3 separate regions of the Homo sapiens genome follow, and regions 1 and 2 are each reported to be linked to region 3. The links are microRNA targets in miRTarBase. Many come from high-throughput screens and were not tested one by one. Region 3 holds a microRNA gene; each other region holds the end of a gene's coding sequence.
What was found. The annotated mature microRNA hsa-miR-548d-5p reads AAAAGUAAUUGUGGUUUUUGCC and lies in region 3 at 1,939-1,960, shown strand. An mRNA with a match to its seed (bases 2 to 7 or 8) in the 3' UTR can be bound and repressed. Matches are read on the target gene's strand: a 7mer-m8 pairs with bases 2 to 8, a 7mer-A1 pairs with bases 2 to 7 and ends in A, and an 8mer does both.

Region 1 (3,000 bases), not on the chromosome of region 3:
TTATCCTACAAATCAAATGGCAGATTCACAAGCATCAATATAAGATTGCACACCACCCTGGAGCAGTACTCAGCTCTGAGTTATCCAGGATAACTCTCGTTCTGTATCCAATCCTGTGGTCATTTTGTAGATATGAAATATTAAGTCCTCTTTACTGACCTCTCAAGAGGTGGGTTTCTTAGACTTTCTGAAACATAACTCTAGAACTCTAGACTTAGCAAGGCATCTGAATCTTAATTTGCTGTAAAGACTCCTCAATAGCTCTAATTACAGTGTGAGACCACCCTGGAGGGTGAGGACCAGGAAGGAATGGTGATTTAAGAACACATCTTAGACTGTAACAAAAATGTACAGCTTTAAAGCAGATCTGCAGAAATCTGATGCAGAGCAAGCCACTGTGAAGACAAATCAAATTTGGCCATTAGAGAAAAGGAACAAGGCTTCATCTTGTAAAGTACATTTTGTACCTCAATTCTAGAAATCACCTTAAATTACAATATCTTGCGTCATTAGCAATTAATGATATGATATCTGTACAGATTCTACAAATATATATACAAGCACACACAAGCACTAATATGCAAATGTATACATGTGTACACATATTATATATATTTACATATATACAGGGACATGTATAATTTACATATATTCAAATTTGCTCCAGCTGGAGCCAAATAATTGAGTACTGAATCTCTAAAGTCAAGGAGGTAAGAGCTCTTGATTCCCTTGGTTGAAGAATTACAAGGAGGCTTGTCAACGCGAGGTGGCGCCCTTGATCTACTAATCCAGCTAAGGCCAATTCATGAGCTGTCAAAAGTCAAGGTCACAAATTGTCTTTTTTTTCGTCAAGGTCAAGGTTTAAGGCCTTTCGTAGTCCTGTCATTTCAACAAATATCAAAACCTGCCCTCTCAGACACATGCAGACCCAACAGCAGATTTTAAAATACGACAGCCTAGGCATTGCTGCTACAAAACAACTGGTTTTCATTTTCCACAGGGAGCCTGGGAATTCATACTATCTCTTCCTCCTTTCTTTTCTCTCCCTTTTGTAATACCTGACACTTTAATCTCCTTGAAGCACTTATCATTTTTTAGGATTTTAGTTATGAGGGATTTCTCCCTTTTCTTAAAAATTTGGTAGCAAAAGAAGTACTGAATAATAATAAAGAATGGTCCTTGGTTTATATAAGATAAACCTGCTCCTTTTCTTTCTGTGCAGTGCACATTTAGCATAGGAAAGTAAAGAGTATTTTCTGCAGATTTTAATGGCAGTGACTATTTTATTAACAATTAATATTACGATATCACTATCTACAGGTCTAAGGGTTTTTTTTTTTCATTTTTAGTAGAAATATTTAAAAAGCAGGTGCACAAATACATTTTCACAGTGTGCTGAATGTCTTTATTTACAAGATATCATTCTATAGTGAATATGAACAAAACGAATGTGCTGGTTGAAATAACTGCTTGATTAAAAATGTGCTGTGAAGATGAATCACTAATCTTTCTAATGCACTCTGATAACACAATAAACATGGAAAAATACTAATCCCTTAATAGATCAAAATATAGAATATAGACACCTAAATATTTCAGGGGAATGAATTTTCATTCTGAGTTTTCTAAAAAAGAAAAAAGAAAAATGATTTCTCCAGCAAATGTTTAGCAAATATTGGGAAATGCCAATTCAAATGAAAAAACGAATTGTGTTCAAACCAAAGTCCATCATGTTGGGATGGAAACTCTCGGGAGATCTCACATAAAGTGAATTCTGTGGATCATCTGATGATGTAAACATTTTCAAAAAGATACAAAATCCTTTGGAAAATAACGGATATTGGAGCAGTAAATATAGTTCAAATGCCACAAAATATGCTTGTTATAAGCAATTAAAAATTATTCTTAAAAAGACATTACCGACCCGGGTTCTCTTGTAGCCTGAAAGGTTCAGCTGGTTGGTTTTACTATACTACCAAGACAAATGATCCTCAGAAGAGTTTTCTCTCCCTTTCTCCCTTCACAGCAAATATTCCAAGATCATTATTTCAGTACCTTCTCGTTTCCCCTCTAAATCTATACATAAAATGTTTTGCAGAACGTACAACAACGGTAGGAATTTCACTAAGATTTACCTGAGCAGACGCTTAACATGCAAAGGGAATGGCGACCTAAGAAGGACAAGCAGATGTTTACAATGGCCTCTTGCGTTTGTAACCAACTTCCAGATTATTACCATCTAACGCAGTGTCCTAAAATGTAACGATCACTTAAATACTTACAAGATTTCAGTAACTGCGTAACTTATCTGAAATTGCGTATTTTGGGGGTTGACGTTTGACATTTAACGGGCTGGGCTGATGGGGTTGGCGGAAGAACTGGCAGTCTTTACCTTTCTTAAAGTTTTAAAACAGTTGTAGATTCCATTAAAGAGAAAGAGATCTCCTTCGGGAGAGGAAAATGCCAGTCTCTGTCTCTTTCTCTTTCCCATTCTTCAATTATTATTAAGCATTATTATCATTATCTGGGCAAAGCAACGAGTTCTGAAGCGTTTCTTCAAGTTGCCTTCTTGCTCTATTTTTAATCCATTAACTAGTGGTTTTCAGTTTGTTGATGACTTTTTTCTCTTTAACCCTCCTGTTCTGGAACCAGATTGTGACCTGCCGCTCAGAGAGATTCGTCGTGGCTGATATCCGCCTCCGTTTGTCCTTAGTAATGAATTTATTCGTGGCGTATTCCCGTTCAAGTTCTTTTAATTGCACCTTGGTATAAGGCACGCGCTTCTTTCTCCCCCTCCTATAGGAGCTGGCATCCGAGGGATGGGAGACCACGTCTAGAAGACAAGGGAGAAGGCAAGTTACACAGGGATCGGACCCCAGCCAGGGCATAGGCGACAGCTCGATCTGAGCCACCCGCCTTGCAGCGCCCGGCTGCTCTTTGCCACCCGCTGTACAATCCTGTCTTCTGCTAAAGCCTAGAGGGTCAGTGGGGAAGGTAGTT
Region 2 (3,000 bases), not on the chromosome of region 3:
TATGGCCCTTTAAGTATAAATATATATTACATATATGAATGAAGACATTTCAAAAGTGTTCTGCAAATCATATTCTAAAACCAACCTTAGGCAAGGCTTTTTTTTTTTTGGAAAATCAGAAGAAAAAAGAAGAAAACAGAAGTCATCTTAAGGGAATGCATGGACCCAGGTAAAGCCATGTATGGCGGCCACAACACCCAGAGTAGCCTTCCCTAAGAACAACAGCAGCATTTACTGAACATTTGCTGGATCCACAGTCCTGTAGTTAACTATTATACAGAGACTGGTCCATACAAAAGACTCAAGAAACTATACAGCTGTCTTGTTGTGACTATCACAGGAAAATTTATTCTGTAAAATAAAAGTATGCTGTGCATAACAAAGATCAAATGCTGTACTAGATTTTTAAGAAAACATTTAGCACCCACTATATTTTTTTAAATGTGAGGATTGTGAACTTCCCTTCCAGCTCAATCTTCACAAAATTACATATACTATACCTCAGGGTAAAATCTAACTTTAAAAAGAGTTACAACATCTTTCAAATAAAGCAAATTCAGTCTGTAGGAAAATAAATTATCACTTGATATTGGGGTATATCTTTCTTCAATCACTTGGCACATCTGCGGCCAGAAACTCCATTCACTAAGTAAACGAAGGAACTTCTTCCTTCCAAGGGCTGGGACCAAATTTCCTGTGCAAAAACCTTCCTGTATAAGTGAAACCTGTCATTCTCCCAGCAAAGGATAATTGAGATTAGAGAGTGTGTAAAACAAAAATACAAAAATATTACCCAAATTATTTGTACCACATACAGGTTTGAAACCTGGCCATCCAAAATACTAACTAAAAAGACTATTATTGTTCTTAAGGTAGAGAAATCAGACAACACATCTTGGCGCTCATGTTGCTTCCTGCACTAACCTAGTTAATCTGACAAGTGAGACAAATTGTTCATTGGGAAGATGTTTATATCATGCTTCAGTATAATTTGTCTATTCTTTTATAGGGGAGAAATGTTGAAAATAGAACATTCAGTCTTTCTGGCAGTTAATCAACAGTGACACAACCTTACATTTCCTAACAACTACAAATTCCCTAATTAACCATTTTAAAAATGCAATAACAAAACCATTAAACCACTATTTGCTCTAGTTCACTGTTTTTATTTACATAGCTACCTTTCTCCTAGACAAGCAACGTTAGCGAAAGATGCCTTCTTGATGACAATCCTATTCAATTTTTATTTATTTTTTTGGTGAAGGGTTTTCTCAGCAGCCAGTTACCACATGGAGCATTTCACAGTTTCAAAGAAGTTTTCCTCATTTTAAAACTGCAAGAAAATGCTACACTTGATGGTAGTTCCTAAAAAAATAGTTCAATCAACCTTCTAGAATTTTTGTAATATAACTTCAAGTATGTAATGATTTAATTAACACAATACTCTTAATAAACAACAGCAACAACAAACCCAAGTGCTAGCTCATTTCTGGTGCCATGAGACATAATAGCACCACTTGTTTTTCTATTTTAGTGGTTAAAATGTATGCAATTTTAGCACCCATCTACAAAAGTTAGATGTTAATAAAAATATGGTATTACTTGGCTTACTAGGAAGTAACAGTCTTAATATCCCCTTAAGAGAAGAAATCTGTTTCATTTGCTGCATCCTGGGTCATGGAAAAGAATAGTATGAAAGGGGGAAACAAAGAACAGCCTTTTAGGTAAGGCTTTTCAGTACCTGAATCACTGAAAGTATTGAAGTCATGTTCCTTGGAAGAGTAGAATTATACCACACATAGGAGGTTCCAAGGAGTTATGTTGTTATACACTGTATGTCAGGATAGACCACATTTAAAATGCTGAACATGGCTTAGCAGCCTTAAATATAAAAAACAGGTAAACTAGAAAAAGTAATGATAGTGATCAACTCCCGTCCTCTAACCAAAAATCTGCCTTGTCACTCCGTTTCAAAAACAAAGTGAAATATTCTAAACAACTGACAAATTTTTACATAAAAACACATTGAATTTAGATTAATATCAGTTATCAAGACACAATAAATACATGATGGGGAAGACAAAGAAAATAAAGTGCACCTTTACAGTGTAAGAGACTCAGAAATCACTTCCTAAATTGGTAATATAGATTGCAATATAAAAATAACTAGCAAAGTTAGATTAAAAAATTTTCAGCTGAAAAATTACAGTTTTTCAGTACATCAGAGGGACAAATAACCTTTTATTTAAAGGTATTATATTTAGAGACTTGTATATTTCAATTTTGTGTAGGAGAAAGGAAAGCCATTCTTCTAGAAGGCACTAACTGGTTTAAATGTGTGAGTGAATTCCTAAAGAAAACATGTGCAAAGTATAGTCAAGAAGGCTGCCTGGTTGTGTGTTGTATTCACTACTCTTCATCACAGACTATGAATTATTGCTGAACAACTATATCAGTCACCAGGTTTTCCCATCAGAGCTTCAGTGTGTTCAGTCCACAGTGTCGCAGATCTCCTTTACTTTCTGGTTGAATTCTTCTGGTTGATCTGCATATACATAATGTCCTGCCCCAAGAATAGCCTGGATAAGGAAAAGCATTCAGACAGTTAGTGAGTAAAAGCATTTAATAAAACAGAATGATATATAAGCAAAGACACTTAGTAATAAAAGTGAGAGCCACTGTATTTAAATAAAACACGTGATTAAAAAATAACAATAATCTATAGTAACTATTAAGTATATCCATTAAAAGGATCTGAGAATAGAAAAATCTACTGAATCTCAATAAAATTTTAATATGCAAAAAACACTAAATTGACCACTAATAAAAGTGCCAACAGAGAAACTGAAAAAAGTGAGAGTGTGCTGCCTTGTGAGGTGGGAATTACTTGAAGTGCTACTGGACCAATCCCTCTGTCCATCTCTCCTAATGCTGTGGCTCTAGGGACAGGAAAAGTCATTCAGAAAGGTAGTTCACGGTTTGGACATGAAGATGTGTGCA
Region 3 (3,152 bases):
AAAATTAGCCGGATGTAGTGGCGGGCGCCTGTAGTCCCAGCTACTCGGGAGGCTGAGGCAGGAGAATGGCGTGAACCCAGGAGGTGGAGCTTGCAGTGAGCCGAGATTGTGCCACTGAACTCCAGCCTGGGCGACAGAGCGAGACTCTGTCTCAAAAAAACAAGCAGGCCAGGTAAAGTGGCTCACGCCTATAATCCCAGCACTTAGGAGGCCGAGGTGGGTAGACAGCTTGAGCCCAGGAGTTCAAGACCAGCATGGGCAACATAGTGAGACTCTATCTCTAAAAATAAGAATAACTTTTAAAATAATAAAAATACATTAATTGGCCGGGCACGGTGGCTCACACCTGTATTCCCAGCATTTTGGGAGGCCAAGGCGGGTGGATCACGAGGTCAGGAGATCGCGACCATCCTGGCTAACATGGTGAAACCCCTTCTCTACTAAAAATACAAAAAAATTAGTTGGGCATGGTGGTGCGCACCTGTAGTCCCAGCTACTCAGGAGGCTGAGGCAGGAGAATGGCATGAACCTGAGAGGCAGAGCTTGCAGTGAGCCGAGATCAGGCCACTGCACTCCAGCCTGGGCTACAGAGCAAGACTCCGTCAAAAAAAAAAAAATACCACATTAATTATGGTGCTGGTTTTAGCATATGTCCACAAATTCTTTGAAACCCCTCCCTGTAGGAGGCAGGGCCTAATCTCCCTCCCCTGAGTGACTCACTTCTAATGAATAGACGGTAAGCTTGTCCAACCCGTGGCCCAGGACAGCTTTGAATGTGGCCCAACACAAATTCATAAACTTTCTTAAAACATTATGATATTTATGCACAGACCTTTTTTTTTTTTTTTCTTTTGAGACAGAGTTTCCCTCTGTCACCCAGGCTGGAGTGCAGTGGTGCAATCTCGGCTTACTGCAAACTCCTCCTCCTGGATTCACACCATTCTCCTGCCTCAGCCTCCTGAGTAGCTGGGACTACAGGCGCCCACCACCACGCCCGGCTAATTTTTTCTATTTTTAGTAGAGATGGGGTTTCACTGTGTTAGCCAGGATGGTCTCGATCTCCTGACCTCGTGACCCACCCGCCTCGGCCTCCCAAAGTGTTGGGATTACAGGTGTGAGCCACCGCACCCGGTCCTTTTTTTTTTTTTTTTTTTTTTTTTTTTTTTTAGCTCAACAGCTGTCATAGTGTTAATGATGTATTTTATGTGTTGCCCAAGACAATTCTTCTTCCAATGTGTCCCAGGGCAGCCAAAAGATTGGACACCCCTGGAACAGAGTATGGAAAGGGAAATTAGCAGCTTACGGTGGGTAACTCTGGTAGACAACGCCTTAACCAAGTGATCAAGGTTAACTTCACCAGTGAGCAATCAGGTAGATATCATGTGCCCCCTAATATTATGTGATGAGAAGGCCATTTCACCTCTGGGGTATTCTTTCCCCAAACCCCAACTGCAGTCTAATGATCAGAAAACATCAGACAAATCCAGATTGAGGGACATCCTACAAAATACTTGACCAGCCCACTTCATAAATGTCAAAGTCATAAAAAAACAAGGAGAGACAGAGAAATTGACATAGATTGAAAGTGACTATTATGATATAATAATTAAGTGCAACATTATATCCTGATTAAATCCTGGAACAGAAAAAGGACATTAGTGGAAAAAACTGGTGAAATCTGAAGAAAGTCGGGAGTTTAGTTAATACAACTGTGCCCATGTTAATTTTTGAGTTTTGATAAATGTATCATAATTAGTACGATATTAACATTGGGGGAAGGTGGATGAAGACTACGGGGGGTTCTCTGGATTTGCAACTCTTCTGTAAATCTAAAGTTAACTTTAGGGGGTATATGATGTCAACCTGATTTAGCTAAAGTTAACTTTAGATTTACAGAATAATTGCAAATCCAGAGAGAGGGAAGATTTAGGTTGGTGCAAAAGTAATTGTGGTTTTTGCCATTGAAAGTAATGGCAAAAACCACAGTTTCTTTTGCACCAACCTAATAAAATAAAAAGTTTAAAAGGAAAAAAATCTCTCAAATGAAGACGTAGGTCCACACAAGGACTTGTATGTGAATGTTCATTGCAACTTTACTCAAAATCATCCAAAACTGGAAGTAACCCAAATGTCCATCAACTGGTAAATGAATAAACAGACTGTGGTATATCCATTCAGGGGAATGCTACTATGCAATAAAAAGGAACAAACTATTGATACATCCAATAATATGGATGAATTTCTTTTTTTTTTTTTTTTACATTTTTTTTTTTTACATTTTTTTTTTAATTTATTTTTTTATTGATAATTCTTGGGTGTTTCTCACAGAGGGGGATTTGGCAGGGTCATGGGACAATAGTGGAGGGAAGGTCAGCAGATAAACAAGTGAACAAAGGTCTCTGGTTTTCCTAGGCAGAGGACCCTGCGGCCTTCCGCAGTGTTTGTGTCCCTGATTACTTGAGATTAGGGATTGGTGATGACTCTTAACGAGCATGCTGCCTTCAAGCATCTGTTTAACAAAGCACATCTTGCACCGCCCTTAATCCATTTAACCCTGAGTGGACACAGCACATGTTTCAGAGAGCACAGGGTTGGGGGTAAGGTCACAGATCAACAGGATCCCAAGGCAGAGGAATTTTTCTTAGTGCAGAACAAAATGAAAAGTCTCCCATGTCTACTTCTTTCTACACAGACACGGCAACCATCCGATTTCTCAATCTTTTCCCCACCTTTCCCGCCTTTCTATTCCACAAAGCCGCCATTGTCATCCTGGCCTGTTCTCAATGAGCTGTTGGGTACACCTCCCAGACGGGGTGGTGGCCGGGCAGAGGGGCTCCTCACTTCCCAGTAGGGGCGGCCGGGCAGAGGTGCCCCTCACCTCCCGGACGGGGCGGCTGGCCGGGCAGGGGGGCTGACCCCCCCCACCTCCCTCCCGGACGGGGAATATGGATGAATTTCAAAAACATTGTGTTGAGCAAAAGAAGTGAGACACAAGAGACTACATCTGTATGACTGCATCTATAGGAAACTTTAAGAAAGGCAAGACTTTAGTGCAAAAGCAGATCAGTGCTTGTTAGGAACAGGAGTGGGGAATGTGGGGGGTAGAGAGAAGTAATTGACAGCTAAAAGTCACAAGGGAAGTTCTAGGGGTG

Region 1: miRTarBase lists HOXA13 as a target of hsa-miR-548d-5p. Seed matches in the 3' UTR shown: 7mer-m8 at 1,240-1,246 and 7mer-A1 at 451-457.
Region 2: miRTarBase lists ABHD5 as a target of hsa-miR-548d-5p. Seed matches in the 3' UTR shown: 7mer-m8 at 1,911-1,917.

What each region holds. Positions count from the first base shown.
Region 1 is chr7:27,195,610-27,198,609 of GRCh38, forward strand. It overlaps HOXA13 (homeobox A13), which reads right to left. Exons shown (of 2, transcript NM_000522.5): 2 at 1-2,833. The coding sequence ends at 2,589. Among named protein-coding and RNA genes, the nearest start is that of HOXA13, 3.0 kb to the right of the region's middle.
Region 2 is chr3:43,718,022-43,721,021 of GRCh38, reverse strand. It overlaps ABHD5 (abhydrolase domain containing 5, lysophosphatidic acid acyltransferase), which reads right to left. Exons shown (of 7, transcript NM_016006.6): 7 at 1-2,579. The coding sequence ends at 2,490. Among named protein-coding and RNA genes, the nearest start is that of ABHD5, 29 kb to the right of the region's middle.
Region 3 is chr17:67,470,348-67,473,499 of GRCh38, reverse strand. MIR548D2 (microRNA 548d-2) reads left to right here and starts at 1,915; the gene lies at 1,915-2,011. All of the region lies in intron 1 of PITPNC1 (phosphatidylinositol transfer protein cytoplasmic 1), which reads right to left. MIR548AA2 (microRNA 548aa-2) reads right to left here and starts at 2,011; the gene lies at 1,915-2,011.